7 linked regions of the Homo sapiens genome follow. The protein of the gene in region 3 purifies or fractionates together with the protein of the main gene of each other region. This does not show direct contact. Each region holds a gene or a part of one and is shown on either strand. Other genes may lie near its edges.

What was found.
Region 1: the proteins of TPX2 (region 3) and PPP1R9A purify together in Homo sapiens (affinity purification with mass spectrometry; one large-scale study listed by BioGRID and IntAct). This does not show direct contact.
Region 2: the proteins of TPX2 (region 3) and NCOA5 purify together in Homo sapiens (affinity purification with mass spectrometry; one large-scale study listed by BioGRID and IntAct). This does not show direct contact.
Region 4: the proteins of TPX2 (region 3) and YLPM1 purify together in Homo sapiens (affinity purification with mass spectrometry; one large-scale study listed by BioGRID and IntAct). This does not show direct contact.
Region 5: the proteins of TPX2 (region 3) and SFSWAP purify together in Homo sapiens (affinity purification with mass spectrometry; one large-scale study listed by BioGRID and IntAct). This does not show direct contact.
Region 6: the proteins of TPX2 (region 3) and PHF3 purify together in Homo sapiens (affinity purification with mass spectrometry; one large-scale study listed by BioGRID and IntAct). This does not show direct contact.
Region 7: the proteins of TPX2 (region 3) and DCAF13 purify together in Homo sapiens (affinity purification with mass spectrometry; one large-scale study listed by BioGRID and IntAct). This does not show direct contact.

What each region holds. Positions count from the first base shown.
Region 1 is NC_000007.14:95,271,094-95,274,593, forward strand, and holds part of PPP1R9A (neurabin-1), read left to right. Parts: intron 1-2,805; coding exon 2,806-2,893; intron 2,894-2,991; coding exon 2,992-3,075; intron 3,076-3,500. UniProt on the Homo sapiens protein: Binds to actin filaments (F-actin) and shows cross-linking activity. Binds along the sides of the F-actin. May be involved in neurite formation. Inhibits protein phosphatase 1-alpha activity.
Region 2 is NC_000020.11:46,065,963-46,069,462, forward strand, and holds part of NCOA5 (nuclear receptor coactivator 5), read right to left. Parts: intron 2,677-3,500; coding exon 2,540-2,676; intron 1,220-2,539; coding exon 1,093-1,219; intron 1-1,092. UniProt on the Homo sapiens protein: Nuclear receptor coregulator that can have both coactivator and corepressor functions.
Region 3 is NC_000020.11:31,745,790-31,749,289, reverse strand, and holds part of TPX2 (targeting protein for Xklp2), read right to left. Parts: intron 1-3,500. UniProt on the Homo sapiens protein: Spindle assembly factor required for normal assembly of mitotic spindles. Required for normal assembly of microtubules during apoptosis. Required for chromatin and/or kinetochore dependent microtubule nucleation.
Region 4 is NC_000014.9:74,829,316-74,832,815, forward strand, and holds part of YLPM1 (YLP motif-containing protein 1), read left to right. Parts: coding exon 1-28; intron 29-3,500. UniProt on the Homo sapiens protein: Plays a role in the reduction of telomerase activity during differentiation of embryonic stem cells by binding to the core promoter of TERT and controlling its down-regulation.
Region 5 is NC_000012.12:131,752,590-131,756,089, forward strand, and holds part of SFSWAP (splicing factor, suppressor of white-apricot homolog), read left to right. Parts: intron 1-533; coding exon 534-774; intron 775-1,778; coding exon 1,779-1,910; intron 1,911-2,796; coding exon 2,797-2,890; intron 2,891-3,500.
Region 6 is NC_000006.12:63,634,457-63,638,601, forward strand, and holds the start of PHF3 (PHD finger protein 3), read left to right. Parts: upstream 1-1,345; 5' UTR 1,346-1,694; exon of another isoform or gene 1,695-2,337; coding exon of another isoform or gene 2,338-2,339; exon of another isoform or gene 2,340-2,366; intron 2,367-4,145.
Region 7 is NC_000008.11:103,441,670-103,443,953, forward strand, and holds the end of DCAF13 (DDB1- and CUL4-associated factor 13), read left to right. Parts: intron 1-1,125; coding exon 1,126-1,213; 3' UTR 1,214-1,784; downstream 1,785-2,284. UniProt on the Homo sapiens protein: Part of the small subunit (SSU) processome, first precursor of the small eukaryotic ribosomal subunit.

The sequences.
Region 1 (3,500 bases), on a different chromosome or scaffold from region 3:
CAGGCACATATCATATGATTTAAAGGTACAAGGCTATCCCAGCCTGGCTGTAGCAGTTTGCTTATGCAGGGTGGAGTAGTTACACACAAAAGTGAGCCAGTAGGTTAAGTATATAGCTTTAGAAGTTAAACATCTTAGATAACTTGCCATATTACTAGGAAACCACAAGAAGTTTGACCAGAGGAATAAAAAGGAAAAGACACCACCAGGTATGGAGAAGCTGAGTTAGGAGACCCTATGAGGTGGTGCCCTCTAAAGAGGAGCAGTAGACAGTGACAGGAAAGAATGATTCAAGGACCCTTGAGACATACCTTGACTAGGTAACAGGTAAGAAAGTGAGGCAAAACTATCATGGGCTTCACGCCTCAGAACATATGGTCTTGTCATTAACAGAAAATAGGAAATCAGCAACATGATGGGGGAAATAGGATTAACTCATTTTTTTAACAGAGGAGGTCATGAGCGCAAGAGAGAGGTCAGGACTGCCAGGTAGATTTGGGAGTCCCCATTATAAAGGAAGAGATAGTCAAGTATCTTATTACAGTGAGATTAAGGAGATGCAGTCCAGTACAAGACCTTAGGATTTGGCCATCAGGAGATCATTTATTATTTGAAAATGAAAACCAGGTTGCCACAGCTTAAAGTTGAGGCACCCAATCTGGGGGCTCAGATGTATAATTGGTCACAAAGGTAGTATTGGAGAGATTTTAAAAAGCCTAACAGAAGTCTTACGTAGAGCTAAATAAACAAAATGTATGTTTCTTTTTTCCTGAAATCATACCAATCTAATGTTGGATTTTATGCAGACTAGAAGTTCTAGTGTGCATTAAAGATGGATTTAATCGATTTTAAATGGGAAAGTACATTATTCCTTATTCTTAACATCTTCAGCCCTATGGAAGCATTCATTTCAGTGTTCCTGGGAACGCACTTTGGCAAATGTGTGAGATAAAGATGTAAGGTTGCCTAGCACCAAGCTCTGTGATAGGCAGAATCAGGCTTTTAGTCGCATGATGTCCAAATAACTGCAACACTCATGGGTTACAGAGTGTTTTCGTGTACATTGCCTCAGCTGGTCTTCTCAGCGCTCATTGTAACATCTCCCAGCTACCTCTCATTCAGGAAATAATTAGGCAGTCTCCTTTTAACTTTGCATAGTCCTAGCCATTAAGAGTTGCTTTAGGATTGATCTGGAAGAATTTGGCACTTTCTTTTCTTCAGCTTCTATTAAGAAAATTTAAATCTTGCTTTTAAAAATAAAATCCATTAGTAAAATCACCTTAGAAGGTGTTTGTGCCATGTCTATGTCTATGGATTTTTTTATATGATTGTGTCACATCTGTGACAATTCAGTTACCCAAAGAGTAATGATGCAAATATGCATAATAAATATTTGAGGCTTGAAGTGGATTTTTGACACAGACATATTTCTGACTCTTGTGTTTCATTATGTACATTTCAGTGAGTTGCTTATTGTAATCTAAGTATCATTAACTAAAAATATGAAAAGCTCATTGCTAAAAACATTTGGAGTATTTGTCAGTGTCCTGTGCTGCTTGAGAGCTTTGAACCTAGACTGCTATCCATGAACTGTGTGTGTACTTCATGTTTTTTAAAGGTGTATGTCGATGTGTGTTGAGAAATTTCTCTTGAAGTAAACAAAAATCATGAGCAACATTAACCTGCAAAGTTAATTGAACACTTTTTTAAGAGGGCCATTCTCTTTGCCTTCCATACTAGAAAGTTCCTAGAAATTTAAAACACATTTTAAAAGATAAGAGACAGAAAAACAGATACCAAAAAAGAACTGGGGAGGAAGAGTTTCACACATAAAAAACATCAAATTTAAAACAGCATTTGTTAATCATCTGAGCTAATTGGATATGCTGAAACGTGATGCCGATCAGTACCCTCTGCTGAATAGTTTGGGTAGAGCCTGTCCGAGATGGAACAAGTGCCACCAGTGGAATTGGTTCCCACCTTGACATTGAACTCCATTTGCAAAGCCTGTCTTCCTATTGGCTTTTGGTATCATTTCGAGGGTCCCCATTCCCCAGCAGCTGCTACCTTTGAGAGTCCTAGAGGCAAAGATCAGTCTGCTCTGAACACTGAGGAGATTTTGGCATCTTCCACATTAAGGGGAACCAGCCAAGTTTTGCTGTAACCTAACTATTAAGAAGGCCCTTTCAAAGATATAAATGTTTTGTAGCTGAGCCCCTGTTTAAGGAGTCTCCCCCATGTCCTCCCCTCCTCTGTTCCAGGACCGGCCACAGGCCATTAGCAAAGGAGAGCCAGAGAAGAAAACTTTGACTCTGACTTTCCCCCTAAATCTCCCAGACTCTCAGAGGTGATATTCTGCGCTGGGCTTTGGAGATACGGGAGAAGTGGGCTATGTTCCTGTTAGAAGGCACTACAACCCCAAGGCAAGAAAGGAATGGAGGACAGAGCCCAGGCACTTGAAGCCAAGAATTTGGAGCCAGAGAAGGAACAAAAGTCATGTTGGTCCCTACTTCGAATGCAGAGGATGATTTGAGAGTATTTATTCTCCCTTGTTCATTCCCATGCAGTTGAAGCTAAAACTCTTTGTGATGAATGTTGAGCCTCTGTCCTATAGAGGACCTCCCCTGCTTAACTGCGAGTTCCTCAATGTAACTGTGTCTCCTAGGTCGTATAAGAAGGCATTGATTATTTATTTTACAATTAGGAATTTAGGCAAAGCCCTTAGATTCAGAGATGCATTGACTTTTGAATTGTGACTTTAAAAATAATAATAATTGATCTTTTTCACAAATGTGTATATCCTAGATGATGCCAAAGATCCCAAATCACTAAGGGCATCCAGTTCATTGGCGGTGCAAGGAGGAAAAATTAAGCGGAAGTTTGTGGATCTGGGGTAAGCACTTCACGATGTAAAAAGAAAGCCCTCTGTAAAAGGAGGATTGAAAGAGAAAATTTCAGCTTCCCCTTTCTGACTGCTTACTATCATTACAGGGCGCCTTTGCGAAGGAATTCCAGCAAGGGAAAGAAGTGGAAAGAAAAAGAAAAAGAAGCCAGTAGGTTTTCTGCAGGTAGCAGGTACGGTTGTGTGATTAAGAACACGTGTATTTCTATACCTAAACTTTCTGGCCCCCTCTTCTATTGTTAACCAAAATCAGTGGTCAGTATCTTTGAGCTAAAGTGATATGCCAAGAATTGAGATGGAAGAAAAATTGCACAATTAGTTTATATTGGTCTTACTCCAATTATAGCCTCCATCTAGCCTTGGGCATATCCATTGGTTCTTAATTGCAGAATTATGGCCACATGAACCATTTCAATAAGTGTTTATCTAAATTCAGCACAAATATATCTATGTGATACTTCAGAAATATCAAATATATTTATGTGATACTTCAGATTTTTTGCCTGGCTACCCACAATGCTAGTGCATTGTATTAAGTCTAAAAGGATAATCATTTTGCATTTAAGTACCTTGTTGACATTCAAGATTGTCTTGTCCA
Region 2 (3,500 bases), about 14 Mb from region 3:
GTAGGTGCTCAGAAAATAACAGCTATTATCATGTGTCCAAAAAAAGCTCTCTAGAGTTAAAAGCAGCATCTATCACTGAACAAGACAGCCAAGAGCCTGTGAACTCTGCCTACTGCTTGGTGTCTCAACACCTATTTCCCTAGTCACTGCCTTGAAATTAGCTCTTTAACCCCAAACTGCTAGAAAATACATGAAGTTATTTACTTAGTACCACCTAGGGAAAGGGAACATAGCTACTGCCAAGCCTGCAAGCTGCTATACTCCTTTCTGCTTCTCTGCTCTGCCTCTTCAAGGAGAAAATGTAAAACAGGGATGCAGTGAAACAATGCTATAAGCCCTAGCTTGGTAACATGGTCATGTAACAGTTCTGCAAGGCCATGGTACTTCACAAAGACTTGGTTCTTGGCTGACAAATGCAGAGGCGTGTCTCCCAAAGTATTGGGCATTTGGGTTGTCCCATGAAGGGAGTATATACTACTCTGCTTGACCAGCGGCTACACCCTCTTCCACTCTCAGTCTGCATGGTTCCACAGGGCTAATCCCACCTCTAGCTCTTGGGATGGGAACATGACTTAGCCCTGGCCAATCAGAACACCCAGCACCCCTGCCAAAGTGACAGGCTCAGGGATGGGAAAGTGAGTCAGGTCAATCTAAAAAGAACTGCAGAACTTCAGGTGGAAACACTGGGAAAGAGAAGTTCTCTTTCCACTTGGCTTGCTAAGCTAAGAAGACACACGTTCAGGGCCAGTGCCATTCTGCCTCTTCAAGCACAAAACCTGCCTGAGAACAAAGGCAAATCTGAGGAAAACAGTGCTTAGAGACTAACACAGAGACCAATTTTGATGACATGGTTTGATCCTGGATGTGGCTGTGCCTCAATTTCCCAGTTAATTTTTGCTTAAATGAAAAATGTCCCTTTTGGCCTCAATTTGAATTGAGTTTTCTGTCACCTATAACTGAAAGAACCCTGGCTAACAGCGCACAGCAATGCAAGAATACACAGCTCAGATTCAGTGGATAGAGGTGCTAAACAGGAGCCTGAATTTCTCTGACTCTTCTCCTTACTGGGGAGAAATATCTAAGGGTTCTTACTTTGTCTGTTTGTTGACCACAATCACAGAACAATCAACGGGCCTTTCGGCATCAAAGCGTCTCTGGATTTCCTCAAAATATTGACGATAAAGCTCTTCTCTACGCCGTTCCTCACGTTTCAAACGCTCTGCAAAACACCACCAGGGTAAACTGAAATAAGGACTGGACCCTCATTTTAAATCCTGAGCTACTTGTAGGCAAAGGTCATAATACTCTGAATCAATCCTCTGGTCTATCTCCTAAAAACAGCCAGTATTAATATTTTTTACTATTATAAATTAACCAAAATGTAATGCTGGATTAAAGGACGTGGCCATTTTAATGCTGCATCTGATACTTACTGCCAAGCTGCTCCCTGAGAAGGCTGATACTAATTTATACCTCCACAGAGGTAGATCATCTAGTGCCTATTTCTCCACACCTTAGTCAACAGTGAGTACTGTCATTCTTTTTAAGTCTTGCCAACTTGACAGATAAGAATATTATTATTATTCTAATCTGCATTTTTGCTTTTTTTTTGGGGAAAAAATCAAGTAGTAAAGTTTAAAATTAAAAATTTAAAAGTTCTTTTTTTAAAAGAAAAAAATCAAGTATAAAGTTTAAAATTAAAAAATTAAAATTAAAAATGAGATTCTTAAAGATTTCAACTTGGCCAGGTATGAAATAATTTAAGAACCTTTAAAGATGTATTGAGAAAAACCAGGCTTTAAAAAGACATGTTTGCCTTCATCTAAAAAAGAGATGCTGTTAGGTAAAAGTTATAAAAAAAACCAAAAACCTATTTTGCCTAGATAATGCAGATAGTCAGTCATAGTTACTTGGTCAGTAGGCAAAAAACAAGCACTTAATGTCTTCAGCTCCAATCTTTTGTTCATTTTTCTCTTTTTTTTTTTTGAGACAGGGTCTCACTCTGTCACCCAGGCTGGAGTGCAGTGGCACAATCATGGCTTGCTGAGACCTCAACATCCTAGGCTCCAGCGATCCTCCTGCCTCAGCCCCCCGAGTAGCTGGGACTACAGGTGTGCACCACTGCACCAAGACAATTTTTGTATTTTTTTTTGTAGAGATGGGGTTTTATCATGTTGCTTAAGCTGGTCTTGAACTCCTGGGCTCAAGTGATCTGCCGGCCTTGGCCTTCCAAAGTGCTAGGATTACAGGTGGTGGCCACAGTGACCAGCATTTTGTTCATTTCTTATTGCTGGAATTTCATATTTATTTCTTCTTGTTGGATGACTAAACCAGATGATGGTACTAATTTGCATCTTAAAAATCATTTTCAAGCCAAATGCTCTTTACCCACTAATAAGCTACTTATATTTCTTCTTTTTATACACTGCTTGGCCAAGGCACTAGCCCTTTTTCAGATGGGGGTACTGGTTATTAGTTTCCTCTCTCTTTTGTAAAGTGTTCTATCAATAATAGGAATAGACTGTTTCAGCTACTTTACCTTTTGCACGAGACTGACTTTCTGGGCCTGGAGGGCCCCGTCCATCAAAGCTATCTCTGTAACGGTCAAAATAAGAGTCATCCTTTCTCCTGCAATAGTCATCCATTCGTAGGTATCGGTCATAAGAGCCTTCTCTCCTGAAAAGTTAAGGAAATTTTCATAAAGATAAAACTGTGTCTTATCCTGAAAAAGTCACCTAGAGAATTCTCTGGGATTAGACAAATGAGGTTTATATCTGGGACTCACTGCATTATCAGCTCTGTGGCTGTGATAGAGTTAACCTGTCTCACTGAGATGATGTACAGAAAGCACTTAGCATGGTCTTTGGCATATATTAAATGCAAAATAACTGGCAGGAATTATTGATACTAGTTTTGAGGAAACATTACATGTCCCTCCCTTGTGCTTTTTAAAATTATATCTAAACGCATATAACAATAATTTGCCATTTTAACAATTTTTATTATTATTATTATTTTTTTTTTAGTAGAGATGGAGTTTTGCCATGTTGCCTAGGTTGGTCTTGAACTCTTGAGCTCAGGCAATCCAATCCGCCCACCTCGGCCTCCCAAAGTGCTGGGATTACAGGCGTGAGCCACTGCGCCTGGCCTAACAATTTTTAAGTATACAATTCAGTGGCATTATATTCACAATGCTGTGCAACCATCACCATTATCTAAAATTTTTCATCACCTCAAACATAAATTCTGTATTCGTGAAATAACTCCCCTCTCCCCAGCCACTGGTAATCTTTAATCTATTTTCTGTCTCTATAAATTTGCGTATTCTTGATATTTCACATAAAGTGAAATCATACAATATTTGTCTTATGTCTGGCTTATTTCACTTAGCATAATGTTTTCAACGTCCTTCATGCTGTACCACAGATCAGAATTTCATTTCATTTTATGGCTGAATGATACCACATTATATGAATACACCACTTAAAAACAAATCCACA
Region 3 (3,500 bases):
TGGTGTTCTTATCCACTGCCTATTTATTTAAAAATAGACATTTAAGCTGGGCGCGGTGGCTCACGCCTGTAATCCCAGCACTTTGGGAGGCCGAGGCGGGTGGATCATGAGGTCAAGAGATTGAGACCATCCTGGCTAACACAGTGAAACCCCGTCTCTACTAAAAATACAAAAAAATTAGCCAGGCGTGGTGGTGGATGCCTGTAGTCCCAGCTACTCGGGAGGCTGAGGCAGGAGAATGGCGTGAACCCAGGAGGCGGAGGTTGCAGTGAGCCGAGATCGCGCCACTGCACTCCAGCCTGGGCAACAAAGCAAGACTCTGTCTCAAAAAAAAAAAAAAAAATTCACATTTAAATAGATAAATAACAAATGTCATGGAGCAAGAGATAATAACTTCCAAATACTGTCTACTGTAGGCCAGGCACCTTACCAGACACTTCACATAAATCATCTCGTTTAAACTGCATTAACAATATAGACAATAGATAGATGTCTTTATAAATAAATGCTACCATCACCATTTTATAAACAAGGAAACAAGCTCAGAGAAGTTACACTATTCCAAGATCACCAAACTAATACATAGCAGTGTTGAGTTTTAAAAGAACAAGTCTGCAGGATTCCAAAATCTGGGGTCTCTCTAATGCACAAGTTTTCCTATAAACATTGCTTCAAAAAGGAGGTAGGTAATCAAATCATAAGATCCTGTTCAACAAAGACAAATCCTGCCCTTTATGAAAACTAAGCATCCCTGATATGCTCATAAAGAAAACTTTAGCAAATTACAAATCCTGTTATAAATATATTTGGAAAGCTCTGATCTGAATCTTCCCATAAATTTTTTAAAAAATCCATTGATTCCTCTTTTTTTAAGTATACTTTTCCATATGAAGTTTTTCCTCTATATAAGATGGTGGTTAGTGAAAACCTCAGTGATATTCTAGAGTAAAGAGACTATGAAGAGGGTTCAAGCAGCAGAAGAAAGGCTGTCCTCTGAGGTCTAAGACTACATTTGATTAGTGGGGAACAAACGGCGAGGGGTGCAAACCTAAGTACACTTAATCTTTAGGTGAAATTTTAAAAACAAAATATTATTTTCCTAACATGACCTGTTCTTTAAAAAAGCTTCTTTTAAGCTATATTTTGGTCTAGAATGGCCAACTCAGGAGACCATCCCCTCTCCCTGGAAAAAGAGAATAAATAAATACATATCCATTGAGAAGTCTGACTCTCTTCAATTAAGGCTGATAGGACAAGTACATCAAGAAAACGAAAAGCTAACTACTGGGTAATTTCGGTTTCACGACACTACCTCCCCCAGAAATAATAAATATGAGGATGTGAAATCTTCCAAAATTAAAGTCCACAGGGCCTAGTGGGAAATGGAACAGGCCAGAGCCAAAGGCAGCTGTTTAAATGAGAGAGCCCCAGGCATGGTGGGAACTGGATGCCTTCCTGCGTCCCTTAATCAAGATTGAATTTCTGTCAACAGGTCTCACCAAAAAAAAAAAAAAAAAAAAGGCACATGCGTCAACCACATTCCCCCAAACAAATCAAGTTGCCAAGCAAGAGAATCAGCTTCACATTTCAAAATTATCTGAATCTACCACAGCTTCAGATTCTTGCAAAACTAGAAATATTCTGCATGGAAAAATAGCTATTAATGACCAATATTCCTACAAAGACCCAAGGAAAAAGCCTATCCTGTATGCTATGAACCAATTAGGTTCCTCTAAAAACTGCCTATTCAATGCCATCCATCGTGTCTTATAGCCCATTTTTGTTTCCAAAAAGCGAAGACTAAAACGATAGATAGATAGATAGATAGACAGACAGACAGACAGACAGACAGAGATAGAGATATAAAATCTCGGCCGGGCACAGTGACTTATGCCTGTAATCCCAGTACTTTGGGAGGCCAAGGCAGGCGGATCACGAAGTCAGGAGTTCGAGATCAGCCAGGCCAACATGGTGAAACCCGTCTCTACTAAAAATACAAAAATTAGCGGGCGTGGTGGGTACGTGCCTTTAATCCCAGCTACTCGGGAGGCTGAGGCAGGAAAATAGCTTGAACCCAGGAGGTGGAGGCTGCAGTGAGCCGAGATTGCACCGCTGCACTCCAGCCTGGGACAGAGCGAGACTCCTTCTCAAACAACAACAACAAAAAAAAATCTCTTCCCTCCAAGAACGCACAATTGAATGGGGGAATGCAAACAATTACAATATAGGGCTATCCTTGCTGCAAGAGGGCATTAACAGAGAGCGCTCTGGAAGTGCAGAGAAGGAGAACAGCATAAAAGAGGATCAGAGATGGTTTCCTGATGTAAAAAATACTTAAAAGATACAGACAGACCTGCGGAGTTCTACAAGCTAAGAATGAACGTTGACTTTTTCTAGGGTAAGAGATAAATGGAAGGGGAAGACAAATACAAATTAGGAAGATTGCAGACAAAGCAATGTAACCTGTTCCCACATTCATCTGAAATTAACCTCCCATTGCCTCCCATCTTTCTTCACTCTCAAACCAAAAATAACTAGTCTTGACAAGCTCTATAAATCAAAAGGTGCAGGTTCAGACCGGGTTGGGGAAAGCTGCAAGAGGGTGCATTCTAAGCAGGGTGAAATAGGGGACTACCAGCTCCTGAGCAAAACAAAGACTTTGGTGTGACAGATGCTCTCAAACACCTTGCTATCCAGTCAGTGAGATATGACTTGCCTATTTCTATTAAAGAGAAAGTCATGAGTTAAACTGGTAATATAATAGAATAAACAGAGTAAGACAAGACTTCATTAGAAGTATAGTTAGTTAAGATGGTCCCATCCCAGGCAGTGCCATTTCTCCAGGGACATCCTCTCCTACTTTCACAAGGGATAAGAGATCCTGTTACATTACCACAAGTAAAATAGAGTGGAGTTACTTTCATCTTACCCAGAGAGAAAACACCTACATTTTTTTCTTGTATATAAGGGATTAGCAGCAGTCAGTAAATGGCAACATAATCCAGCATGCAATTTTAACTGTTAATCAAAGTCACAAACTAAGTCTGAAGGAAGTTTAATGGACTTTGTGTTTCCACATTTATGTTTGCTAACTTCTATGTTGAAATTGGATCTGTTTACAGAAACAGATCTATGAAGCTTCCAAAATTGGGTCAATTTAAAATCCAATGACAATCCCTCACTGTCCAACACTCAGAAGTCAGCACAGGACACATGGACACTTGTTCTAATTCATCACTGTCCAGAAACTTCAAGCAAATATATTTCCTATCATTTCTCTCCCAAACTTGTATGTTTCATATTGCCCTTTTTTAAGGATTACAAACTCAGTTTTGCTATAATTTATCCATAGAACTCAACAAACCATAATCCACCTATGACTAATAGGACCTAGATGGAAATCAATGATGCTGTTTACTACTAGGACAGATAATGACAGAGAGCTTTGTAAAATACTAAAAGGAAATCTTAGTAGAAACCCAAAGTAATCTGATATTCCA
Region 4 (3,500 bases), on a different chromosome or scaffold from region 3:
TCGTGCTTCTGAGCCTGGGAAGAAGAGGGTAAGAGACTTTGTCAATAACTGCCAACAAATGAAGGGCCCATTTAGGCATCTGGTTTTAGGAAGTTACAGGCAGATGATCACATGGATGCTATTTTTAGAATGATTTAGTTTACGCTATGTCATGTATCCCAAGAAGGAGTCATACCTTATAAATTATCTCATCAAAATGTACAAGTAGCTTAAAAAATTGGAGAACAGAACCTCACATGGCTAGCACGTTGTCAACCTTAAAGGCATTGGGAGTGGCCAGTCACTTGTGCTATTTTGTCATGGGGCAAAAAAAGCCAGGTACAGAGTAGGGTATTGAAGAGAACCTGTGGAACTTCTTAATGGATGGGATGTGGAGGGTCCAAAGGTAGATCAAGGGTGACCCCTTGGTACTCTGGCCATGAGCACTGCATGTGTGTAGTACCATTTAGTGAGAGAGAAAACTGGGGGAGTCATAGGTCATAATTTTTGGAACTGAGAGAAATGATTTAAGTTCTGTGAGAGAAATTCTAATTTTTCTTCTAATTAAGTTAGAAATATAAGTGAAAATGTCAAAATGACTGTTGGATTTATTAGTATAAAACTCACCAGAGAGATCAGACTGAACTAACAAATTTCAGGAAATGGTATTTAAAACCGTGGGACTGAATGATCTTGCCCAAGGAAAAAGTATAAATGGAAAAGGTAATAGGACGCCAGACCTCCAAAATTTAGTTCAGATAGAGGTGTTTCAAGAAGGAAAGAGTATAGTCAGTTTTTAAATGATGCAGAAAAGACAAGTAAGTTTGGAACAGATAAATGGCTGCTAGATGTTGGCAACATGGAGGTCACTGATGATTGTAGTTTGTCATCAGTCTACAGTGATGAGGCAGCAGAAACCAGTTTGGAGCAGATTAAAGAATGAATAAGAAATGATGAAGTACAGTACAGCATATATAGGCAACTTTTTGAAGTTTTGCTGTGAAAGGGAATAGAGAAATGAAGCTAGGATATTAGATAGGTCTTTACATAAATGTTGAATTCGATAGTGATAGATGTGTATATCCTTTAAAACAAAATAAAGCAAAGGGATCGTATTATATATACTGTTGTGTAGAAGTCTTTTTCAGCTAATCCATCTTGATCTTTCTATATAAGCATATACAGAACTACCATTCTTTTTAAAGGGCTACTTGGTGTCCCATTGTTTGGTTGTACAATCAGTTATTTAACTAGTCCCTTTGTGTTAGTCCGTTTGCGTTGCTATAAAGGAATACGTGAGATTGGGTAATTCATGAAGATAAAAGGTTTATTTTGGCTCACTGTCCTGCAGGCTGTACAAGAAGCATGGTGCTAGCATCAGCTCCTGGTGAGGCCTCAGAAAGTCTTCAATTATGGTGGAAGACAAGGGGGGAGCCAGCATGTGACGTGGCGAGAGAGGAACCAAGGGGAGGGGGTCCCAACTCCTTTTAACAACCAGATCTCACATGAACTCAGAGTGTGAACTCGCTCATTACCGTCAGGAGGGCACCAAGACATTCACGAGGATCCTCCTCCATGACCCAAACACCTTCAGTATCGGGGATTACAATTCAACATGAGATTTGAAGGGGACAAACATCCAAACCATAATGTCTTTACTGATGGATGCTTACAGTGTTTCCATTTATTGCCAGTACAGATGTGAAGGTTGTGGTGTGTATGTCTCTCTTTACACGCTTACATGCAAATAATTGCCTGTTTTTCTACAGCAGTGCTGTAATCAAACTCTTTAACTTTTGACAATCTGATAGGTGAAAAAAATAGTATCTCATTTTTCATTTATTTACTAAGAATGAGGTTGTGCATCATTTATCTTTATGCATCATTTCTTTGTATTTCTTTCTTAACGAATTTTCTCAGTGCCTTAATGTGCTTAGTGTACTTAGTAATGGGCACCATTACAAAGAATCCAGGTTTCAAAGCTTTTTAAAATACTGCAGATACTCCAAAGCCTGCCCTTGTCTGTGTAGCTTCAAAGGATGGGTAAGGGAGAGCCCACTGCCATTTGCACCCAGCCTCACCAAAGGACTGCTTATAGTGATACCTCTTACTCCAGTTTTAAGGCTGGAGCCAACAGAGGCAGAAGTGGCCCTTCCTTGCAAATAATAAAGTGTAGTTCTGGTAACAATTAGTAATCTAAAATGAGAAATATTTTCTCTGTTTTTACTCAGGTAACTATCACTGTCTTCACTGAGGAGTATGTAATCCCATGCAGTTTATTTTATTAGGTTGGGTGACCAAAGAGAACTGAGTGGTGCACATTCTAGTTCTTTAAAGTTGCTCCTCTTTAAGTCTCCTCCCCTGCCTTATACCTTGACTTCAGATAGTTTTTAACTCTTGAACCACTCACCAAAACCAACATTAGAGCACAGGAGATCCTACAGGTAGCAAAGAATACAGAATGCTGTACATTACTCATTCCTTCTTGGGTTTCTTTGTTTCTGTGATTCAGCTTGTTACAGATATCAGATGGGTTCTTGGGATTAACTTCCTCTATAACAAAAACGTGGTTCTGTAGAGTTGGTTATATTAGAATTTTGCCTAAATGGCTAGGCTTTAAAATATAATTTACTTTTAAAATATTTGCTTGCTTGGGTATAAAATGGTAGCTTACTTGGACTTTAATTTGTATTTCTTTGATGACTATGGAAGGTGAACCTTTCCCTTGTTTGTTTGCTGAATTTGTATATTTTAGAAATACTTATAGTTACAGTGGATGAAATATAAGTACCTCAAACCTTTGAGGGCTAGTTAAGATTTTTCTGTATTATAACAAATTTATTTTTACAGGAAAAAACAACAGCAAAAATGTCGTAAGTCTCAAAAGTACCTCTAGGAAAATTAAAAGGGACACTGATATTCAAGAAGCCATTTCAAGCTGAAAGTCATTATTCTGCTCCTTGTATGTTTAGTGGTTCGGTAATCATTTATTCATTCCATATGTTGAATGTCTTTGTACGAAGTCTATGAATGAGTCCTCTTAAGGAGCTGACATCCAGTGGAGGAATTCAACATGTAAATAAATAATTTTACTATAGCATCAGTATAAATTAGAGATATTAACAAAATACAATAGTTTCCAAAATATTTTAATTCCAACTTCATTTGTTTTTTGTTTTTTTGTTTTTTATTTTTGAGACAGAGTCTCACTCTGTTGCCCAGCCTGGAGTGCAGTGGTGATTTTGGCTCACTGCAACCTCTGCCTCCCAGGTTCAAGCCATTCTCATGCCTCAGCCTCCTGAGTAGCTGGGATTACAGGCACCCACCACCACGTCCGGCTAATTTTGTTTGTATTTTTAGTAGAGACGGGGTTTCGCCATGTTGGCCAGGCTGGTCTCAAACTCCTGACCTCAGGTGATCTGTCTGCTGCAGCCTCCCAAAGTGCTGGGATTACAGGCGTGAGCCACTGTGCCTGGCCTAATTCCAATGTTAAAATCTTGAACATTTATTCGCAAACATAC
Region 5 (3,500 bases), on a different chromosome or scaffold from region 3:
TGACGCCAGGGTTGCCAGGAGCAGCTGCCTTACTGAGGGGATGGTTTCCGGATTAACGTGTGAATGGAGGGAGCAGCGTGCCTGGGGAATGAAAGCAGGTGTCAGCGCGGGGAGCTAGCCAAAGGCATTTCCTCACATGTGCATTTAGGAGCATAGGTGGCCTTCGTGGGCCGTGTGAGCAAAGGGATGACTGGTTGCCGCTAGAGAGGAGACTGTTCCCAACCTGCACATTTTGAAGTTAAGGAGGACATTAATTTGTCTAGAGAGTATTCATATCTGGTGCCTTTGAATGTCCTCATGCCATTCGCTTTCCATCTGTCTTTGGATGCGTGTTGTGGCTTTGCCTGGTTCTTTTAAATTGCATATTGTGCAGACAACTTTTTGTATCAGAAAAATCTAGAAAACAGCATGGTTGGAAGTGAGCAGAGGCAAGGCTGCATCTTGCCGGGGGAAGGGCTCTTGTGGCTGCATTGTGGACTCATGGACCAGCCTGTGGCCGGCCATGCTCACTCCGGGGCAATGTGTCTCCACAGCGACCGTGGCAGCCATGTATTACAGCTACTACATGCTACCGGACGGCACTTACTGCCTGGCGCCGCCCCCTCCCGGAATCGACGTGACTACTTACTACAGCACCCTTCCTGCTGGCGTGACCGTGTCTAACTCCCCTGGAGTGACGACCACCGCCCCACCACCTCCTGGGACCACACCACTACCGCCCCCAACCACAGCAGAGACTAGCAGCGGGGCCACCTCCACAACCACCACCACAAGGTAGGTGCAGCGTCCACCGCTGCCTGCTGTGTGAGTCACTCAGCACTGCAGTCACTGGGGCCGTCTGTGTCTCCATGGGGGGCTTGTAATCTAGATCATATACAGGGGTCCCCATTGTCTGAGTAGTTATTATTCCAAATCCCCAAGTTACAAAGTTGACAGGAAAACAGAAATGGTTGTAGCACAAACTTTTTAGCATTGAAGTTAAACCACTTATAAAGTTGAATTCATTTCACGTCGCACGCTGGCCCCAGATCTCCAGCATCTGTTCTTGCGCTTTGTGTCAGAGTCTCAGTTGAGCTGTGCTAGGCAAAATCAGTATGCAGTGAAGCTGCAGTTGTTTGCAAAACATGCAGGTTCATAAAGTTGACGCAGGTGATGTTGGGGTGCTTCATGAGTCTCTCCCAAGCTGTTGGCCACCAGGGGACCCTGGCAGCTACTTTAGTTAACCTGTGAAGCCATCGGCAGAGCCCTAGCTTCTCCAGCAGCGAGGGCCCCCAGTGTTCAGGGGACGAGTATGAGACAGGCGCTTTACCAGTGGGCCTGGAATGCCCTGCCTTGAAAGGAGACTCCTGGGAAATGGAATGAAACACGCGAGTTTCTGTGAAAACGACTCTTTCTGGTCATGCTGAGCAAGTCAGACAGGAAATGAAGGAGGTTGAACCATGCTTGCCGACTTGTTTTCAATATAACAACAACAACAACAAACTGCTTATTCTTTGTTATTTCTAAGAATTAGCTTGTGATTGGGGGGAAATGTTAATTAGTAGGAAAAATGCACCTTTTATCACTAAAATCCCCATTTTTCACTCTTGACAACAATCCTGTCTAGTTGACTTTAGTTTCTGTCGTGTGCATCACCTTCAACAAGAGCCTCCCCTAACACACTGTTTATAACTCACATGTCTCTCCGGGCATCTGAGGCGGTGAGGACCCCCGAGCAGCCAGGACTGAGCTTGGCGAGCCCCTGAAGCCCAGGGGTCTCACAGACTCTTCTCCTGCAGTGCACTTGCCCCCGTGGCCGCCATCATCCCCCCGCCCCCCGACGTCCAGCCCGTGATTGACAAGCTGGCCGAGTATGTCGCCAGGAACGGCCTGAAGTTCGAGACCAGTGTTCGTGCCAAGAATGATCAAAGGTCAGAAGAAGAATTTTATATGTTAGGTATATGGCATTTGGGGGTTTCGTTTAGCCTTTTTTTAAAAAAATGTAGGTACAGAATTAATTTTTTTATATATTTTTAAGCCTTTTCTTGGCTCAAATGTCTTTTTTTTTTTTTTTTTTTTTTTTGAGATGGAGTCTTGCTCTGTCACCCAGGCTGGAGTGCAGTGGCGCGATCTTGATTGACTGTAACCTCTACCTCCTGGGCTCAAGCAATTCTCCTGTCTCAGCCTCCTGAGTAGCTGGGACTACAGGCGCGCACCACCACGCCTGGTTAATTTTTGTATTTTGGTAGAGACAGGGTTTCACTGTGTTGGCCAGGCTGGTCTCAAACTCCTGACCTCAAGTGATCCACTTGCCTCAGCCTCCCAAAGTGCTAGGATTACAGATGTGAGCCACCACGCCCAACCAATGTCTTTAGATAAATACATTTTTTAATTGGCTTGTTAAATTGCTTAGACTTGGGTGGTGTTTTTAAATTATGTTACCTGTTTTTTGTTTCATTTTTTAAGTAGGAATTTTGAAGCTACCTAAAATAAAAGCCTATAATTCATGGTTTTCAAGAATCTGCCTTAAAAATCTAGACACAAACCCTTCTTTTTAAAAACCAAGCAATGTCCCACGCCTCAGTACTAATAAAACGTAAAGATATGTTGTCACATTTGCAGCGTGACCTGTGTAACCCCGGGCAAGCGATTTCGACCCCCTGTGTGCAGTCTCCCTCGTCTATAAGATGAGTAGCTAAAACAGTAACCACCTTGTGGGATTGTTGAGATCAGTAAAGAGCTAGGAGAACAGGGCCTGTTGTTACTTCAGTGAGCTTGTCTTGGTAAATGACCCATTTTCTTTCTTTTTCTGCTCAGATTTGAGTTCCTGCAGCCGTGGCACCAGTATAATGCTTATTATGAGTTTAAGAAGCAGTTCTTCCTCCAGAAAGAAGGGGGCGATAGCATGCAGGTACGTGTCTGAATGCAGGGAGGCTGTGAAGCTCTTAGAGGTGGCTCCGCCTTCCAGATCAGAAGTCGCTTTCTGTTTCTTCTCCTACAGGTGAAAGGGCTGGGTGATTCTTCACCTTTTTTTAATGTGTGTCTGGCATACTCCATCTTTCACGTCCCCCTTAGCTCTGGAACCTGATCTGTTGAAAGCATCTGCCCACGTTCACAGCATTGATGATTGTTTGTCCAGCACGTTCTAAACAAACAAAAAAAATCCTGTTCCTTCAACTGTTCGATGTTTTGGCCGTCTACAGTTACTAGCTACCTTTCATGACAGCCGGGTACCTTGCTTCTGTTGTGTTAACATGTATGAAATATATAAAATATAAGTGGGCGCCTCATGCCTGGCCAGCTGGTGCTGGGGGTGTCCTGCAGCACGGCCTCTGCCTGTGCCTGCACGCCCTTCCCCCTCACCAGATCCCCAGCGTGGTGCTGGCGCACTTGGAAGTGCTTTTTGTCCTACAGCCCCCTCTTCTGCCTTTGCTCTGCTCTTCTCAGTTATATAGACACCCTGACATTTTTGTAAAGCCAGTTTTGGTGAGGAGATGACATGGGCCTTACTTCTCAGGAGA
Region 6 (4,145 bases), on a different chromosome or scaffold from region 3:
TTGTTTTTATAATTCATCCCAGACATCCCAAGTGAGAATTAAAAAAAAAAATTACTCATTTCTATTTTCCTTTCTCAAAAACACATTACAAAAAGATTGTAAAACAAAGTCTTGAGGGATTGATTAGTCAAGACAGGGGGTGAAACTCTTAAGAATCCAGTGGAATCAGGACAACCCAAACTTCCTTTGTAGAAGAGCATTTGCTATTAAGAGTGCTTAAAATATCAGAAGACTAGAGAGAGGAAAGAACAGATCTTCACCACATGCCTGTGACTTATTCTTCCACCCTGCACTAATCTTACAATGTGGGCTGCGGTTGGTCTAAAGCTTAAATCAACAAGTACTGTAAAGGTTTTAGAACAGTGCAGACCACACAGTAAGGTGCTCAGCAGGTACTGGCTGAATACTGTAATAGTCCCTGTAGATAAAAGCCACAAACCCTGTCCCTAAGTAGCTCCTTTTGGTTGGAGTGACTGACAAGCAACAATTACTTCACAGCGCTTATTAAGGGCTGAGATAGGGGTTAGCTCAAGTGTCTGTGGAAGCAGACCAGTGGGTCTCAAACTTTTTTTGTCTCTGGACCTCTACACAATATTTGTTACCACAAATAATGTATTTATGAAAAGCATATTTTCCAAATTAATAAAAGGGTGATATCTAAAATTTCTGCAGATTTCCTCAATGTCTGGCTTAATAGAAGATGGCTGGATTCTCTTATCTGTTTCTGCATTGAATCAGCTGCTATATGCTGTTTTGGTTGAAGGGTGGGAAGAAAATTTGGCCTTAGACACATGCTCCTGGCAAAGGAATGGAGGCTCTACTGAAAGGTCTTGGCGACCCCTCAGGGAAACCTGGGACCACATTCTGAAGACTGCTTACTGGATACCAAGAATGTTTCTTGGAGGTAGCAATTTGAGTCCTGAGGTAGATCAGCCATGTAGGGTGAGGGTAACGGAGGTAGTTAATGGTAAGGCTGCTGTGCCGAGCCAGCACAGATATTTGGGCAGAGGGCTCATCTACTCCATCCTATTCTACCATTCTTGAACTCACAGTCAATTAATAAAAAGTACCTGGGGTTGGGGAGCTGCGCATCAATATTATATTAACTGTGAAGCCTTAGTGCTTACTACGGTCGAGAAAAAGCGCTCCTCTGATTCGCCCCTCCCGGCGGCGCGGAGGTGTGAGCTAGAAGCCCGCAGGCGGTGCCGCGTCCTCCGAAGACAGGGAGGGGCGCGGCAACGCCGGGAAGCGCTGCAGCCCGGGGCCCCACGGAGGCGCGGCGCTCGAGGCCCTAAAGCGCGCAGGCGCGGCAGCGACGCAGGCCGCGGCCCCCGGAACGGTAAACAGTGGGGTCACGTGACACGGCCCCTCTCCAGCTCCCGCGCCGCCGCCGCACGCCGATGGCTGCGGGGTCTCGCGCCGTCGCACCGTCCCCACGCGGCAAGCGACCTTCGGGCTCAGGGCGGCGGCGGCTGCAACGAGGATTAGGAGGGCGGCGCGGAAGCCAAGAATAGTGTCGTCAGCAGCAGCCATTTGGTCCCAGGAGGAAAAGAGGCTGTGGCAGCGACGCCGACGTCCTGCGCGTACCCCCTCTCCGCGGCACCCACCGGGCCCCCTCCTCCTCCTCTTCGGCGGCGGCAGCGTCCACCATCTTCCTCTTGCTGCCAGTGGTAGCGCTCGTCTGGCGGAGCTGGGTGAGTTGCGGCTGTGGCCGCGGCCAGGGAGACGGGCAATCCTCCCCTCCCCCATCCCCTTCCACACGCACAGCGCCTCCGCGGGCCTCTCCGCCCCTCCCGCGGCGGACTCTCCGCGCTTTTCTCCCGCGCAGCCGAGAGATCGCCTCTCGGGCCTCTTGCGCAACGTCCTCGGCCTACCTGGGCCGCGCCGCTGGCGCCTGTGGACCATTTGGACCGCGGGCTGGGGAGGGAGTCGCAGCGACGCGGTCGCCAGGCGGAGGGTCGGGACCACGGCCTCTCTCCCGACCACTGGTACCCAGCCGTCTGCTGCGAGGGCGCCCCGCCGCCGCTGAGGCGCGGGCGCGCAGGCCCGAGGCACGGCGGGCGCTGCCTGGAAGGCCCGTCTCGCAGGCCCCCGGATCCGGCCGTTGGGGCCTCTTCCTTCTCAGGGAGCCCCAGCATGGAGCTTTGGGCCTTGGTTTCGGGAAACTGGGACTGGCCCTGGCTGCTAGGCTGCTCCCTGCTGCTGCTTTTTGGAGATGAGAGTTGCTCTTCCATTTATCCTCCAGTTACCGCGCGCTTTTGTGCCCGGGACTCAAACTGTGGACTCCTTTTGCTTAGTTTGAAATGAGAAGCCTAGACTCTTGCCTTCCGATAATACATGTAATTTAATGAACCACTTGTCGATACGTACGTGTTAATGGTGCTAAATAACTGATCACCTGACACGGGGGGCGGGGGCGGTGCGGAGAGTAGAAAGGAAGAGAATGTTGATATCGCGCACGGAGTCCTGTGTCCCTCCTTTCCCTCAGGATGTGTTGCCGGGTTAGGTGACCTTTTTCCATCTTTGGGCTTTTAAATGCCAATTCCTAGAGACTAGATTGGGGTGGTTATTAGTGCTTTCCAGTAGTCACGCGTAGAATATGTTCATGGATTAATGTTAAGTGGCAACACTGCTTTAATATTCTAGTCCTAATCTGCATTACATGTAGCGATATTTAATTTAAAAAGAATAATCGATTATTGAGGCTTCTCTAAATACTAACTTTACTATCTTATTTTAAGCTAAATTTAAAAACCAATGCAGTAAACTCTGTAGGGAGTACTTAAACAGTACGTTGTTGTATTTAGTTACTATTTTGGGGTCGAACTTGTCTTCCCTTTGACAAAATGATTGTTAAAGGCCTAACAAAACTACGCCTCCATTATTCATTTTTCGATTCCTGAATGAAGTGTTTGGAACTGTGAAAATATTTGTAGAAAAAGATGTATGTTTGTGTTAGAGCGACATGTTGAGTCAAAGCACCAGAAACTTTTCTATTGTAGCATACTTATGTTTTTGAATTTATAGCTCCCTTCCACAGCACAAAAAGGTGTTGTGTAAAGATTATTGTTATTTTAAATAGTAATTTTAAAGTTTAGTTATCACTTAGACCTTTTCCCCACTAATTTTTCTCTTCATTCATCTGTTTACTGGCTATATATTACCATAATGATTCTTTCCTTCATCATCGTCATTATCACTGTTATTATTATTTTACAATACATACTTCATTTTCTGGTGATAGTAGCAGAGTTTAGTGGCAGACTTTTAGGAGTGATGATTCCTCTGATTGAGCCACACAATCAGTCCCGAAACGGGCTACTTTTATGTAAAAAGATTACAACTTTAGATTTTAAGCTTTTTCAGATAGCTGTACTCGGTAATTTGTCAAAATGATAAAAATGAGCCAGTGATGGGACCAAAGTTTGCCTCTTATTTACATTTTTTATAGGTTCATTTATTGAAGAATAGAAAAATATAGTTTATTTTACTGCTTTTGCATACACGTGAATTATGCATTCTCTCTTGTTGGGATAGACTTCAGATAACTTTATCATGTTGATCTTATGGTATACTTATATGTTGCATAATCAGAAAAGTCACCTCTGAGAAGTGGTCTATGTAAATGTAGGTAAAAAATTGGTTTGGTCAGATGCACATTTCAAGATAGAAAAATCGAAAGGAATTTGTCTTTAATCATTTCAAACTATGTTATTAAAATTTAAATTTTATTGAGTATTGGAATCCACTAGGAAAGTTGACAGTCTTTGACTTATGTAATGTATTACTTATAAAAGTTGGGAGGCAGCAAGTGGCAATTTGGAGTATTGCAAAATCAAGAGCTTAGATTTTTTTCATAGTATAAGGCCTACTTGGAAAAACTGGTGAATGAAAATTATACATACAATTCTGTGTTTCAGTTACTGAAATAGATGATGTTTATCTTCCTTAACATGGTGGGATGGTGTTTGCTTTTTTGATACATTTTGCCTTCTTAAGATCCATTTAAATTTCTCATAAAATCCTTTTTACATATGTTTTTTCTGGAGATAATAACTTTTCTGTTTTTTAGTGAGATAATGAGATTTTTTGGTCAACATTTAGGTTTGTGTATTACCAATACATATTTCACCACACAGTGTCAA
Region 7 (2,284 bases), on a different chromosome or scaffold from region 3:
TCTCACCAAAAACAAAGTTAACTGCCATTCAAGGGAGTAGTTTATGTGCTATTATTTAATAGTATGTTAGTGATGTGTTTGAAGACTTCTACAGAAGGCCTTTTCTTTTTTCTTTTTTTTTTTTTTGAGACGGAGTCTCGCTCTGGAGTGCAGTGGCACAATCTTGGTTCACTGCAAGCTCCGCCTCCCGGGTTCATGCCATTCTCCTGTCTCAGCCTCCTGAGTAGCTAGGACTACAGGCACGCGCCACCATGCGCGGCTAATTTTTTGTATTTTTAGTAGAGACAGGGTTTCACCATGTTAGCCAAGATGGTCTCAATCTCCTGACCTCGTGATCGCCTGCCTCGGCCTCCCAAAGTGCTGGGATTACAGGTGTGAGCCACCATGCCCCGCCCAGAAGGCCATTTCTTTTTCTTTTTCCCAAAAAAGGGAAGCAGTGACTATCTGAGAATGGGAGAACTTCCATTACCTGTTTTTGAGAATATGTTTAAAGGACAAACGATGAAAATGAGTTACCAAAATAAGAAAACACTTGCTCATATTAAAAAATTATTGTAAAAAATGTTTTAAAAAATAATTTCTGATGTAGCTGGAATTAAGAGATTTTGTGTATTTTCCAAGTTAAAGAATTAATCTATAGTAGAGCTCTTTTCTTAAGTAAAAAGTGTTCTGATATACTTTATTATAACATGACATCTATCATTTTGGATATAGAGCAGAGCTACTACCACCACCACCATTTCCCGTGAAATATTCTTCTCTTTGAAATACTTGAAGTCATGCATGAAATTCTAAGAGCTCTTTATTTTTCAATTAGAATATACAAATGGCTCTTTTTTTCTGTCTTTGGGTAGATGTTGCAGTAGAATCACTTTTAGAAATTTTATTAACTGTGGAAGGTTTTTAAACTTAGTAAAGGACCCTATTAGGTAAATATGATAAGAAGCAATTAAATAAGTAAAGTTGATTTCTTGGTACTAGCTTCCTTTTACCTATTGTCATCGTGAAAATATTTTTTTAAATAGGTGTTTTTCTAGTGAAAGAAAATGCTTTGATTTTTCTGAGAAAGTTTTCTTTAAGATGAGTTCCCATAACTTGCTTATATTTTGTATATTTTATTTCTAGGGAAGTGAATCGTATTAAACACAGCAAGCCTGGATCTGTGCCACTTGTGTCAGAGAAGAAGAAACACGTAGTGGCAGTTGTAAAATAATTGGTATTCCTAACAATCCTGATGTATAATTATTTGTTACTTTTGATTTGAGAACTCTACAAATAAAAGTGCTGGGACTAGATTAATTGCAAACATTTTAGTTATATGTGTAGAGCTTTATTGTTACTCCTTTTAGCTACCCTGAAAAATGATCCTTAAAGGTGGCCTAGTTGGTAAGACTGTTTTATCCTTAATCTGCATTCTTCTTTCATTGTAGAATACAGTATTTGCAACTCATTTTTTCTTGTTTTTATTACAGATATACTTACTTTCTCTTTGATCTATTATTGTAGACACTATACATTCAAATTGACATTTAAGACCAAACATCTCTTATGTTATCTTTAATATTACTTTGAATAATGATTGCAATGATGTTTCTTCCTGTGATTCCACATAACATTTAGAATAATGATGTCAATTTTTTACAACTGAATTTATTTCTAGTGCTTTACTTATATTTGGCTTTTTGACTCTTTTAAAACAATCAGCCTGCATTTATATAACTTTTATAAATAATAATATAATTTGGGTCAAGTTAAGATATTAAAAGTTCCTTTCAGCATTGAAACTTTGGCCTATTTTTGGTAAATAATTTTCAATCTCACTAAATCCTAAATAGCTCTGTGTAACATAGGTTTTTCTTTTTTTAATCATCAACTTAATAAACTTTATTATAAATATGTATAAATCCAAATTTTAGGAGATGTTAAGTAAAGAAGAGATTTTAAAATCCAAAGAAAAGAATGTGTTAAGAATACAGTCATCACTCTGTATCTGTGGGAGATTGATTTCAAGATGTACCATTGATGCCAAAATCCAAGGATGCCCAAGTCCTTGATATTAAATGGCATAGTATATGGATATAACCTCTGCATATCCTCCCAAATACTTAAAATCATCTCTAGATTACTTATAATACCTAATACAATGTAAATGCTAAATAAATAGTTGTTATACTGTATTGTTTAGGGAATAATGATGAGAAAAAAAGAGTCTGTACATGTTCAGTACAGATGCAATTTCTTTTTTCCAAATGCTTTTGAGCCACAGTTGGTTGAGTCTATGGGC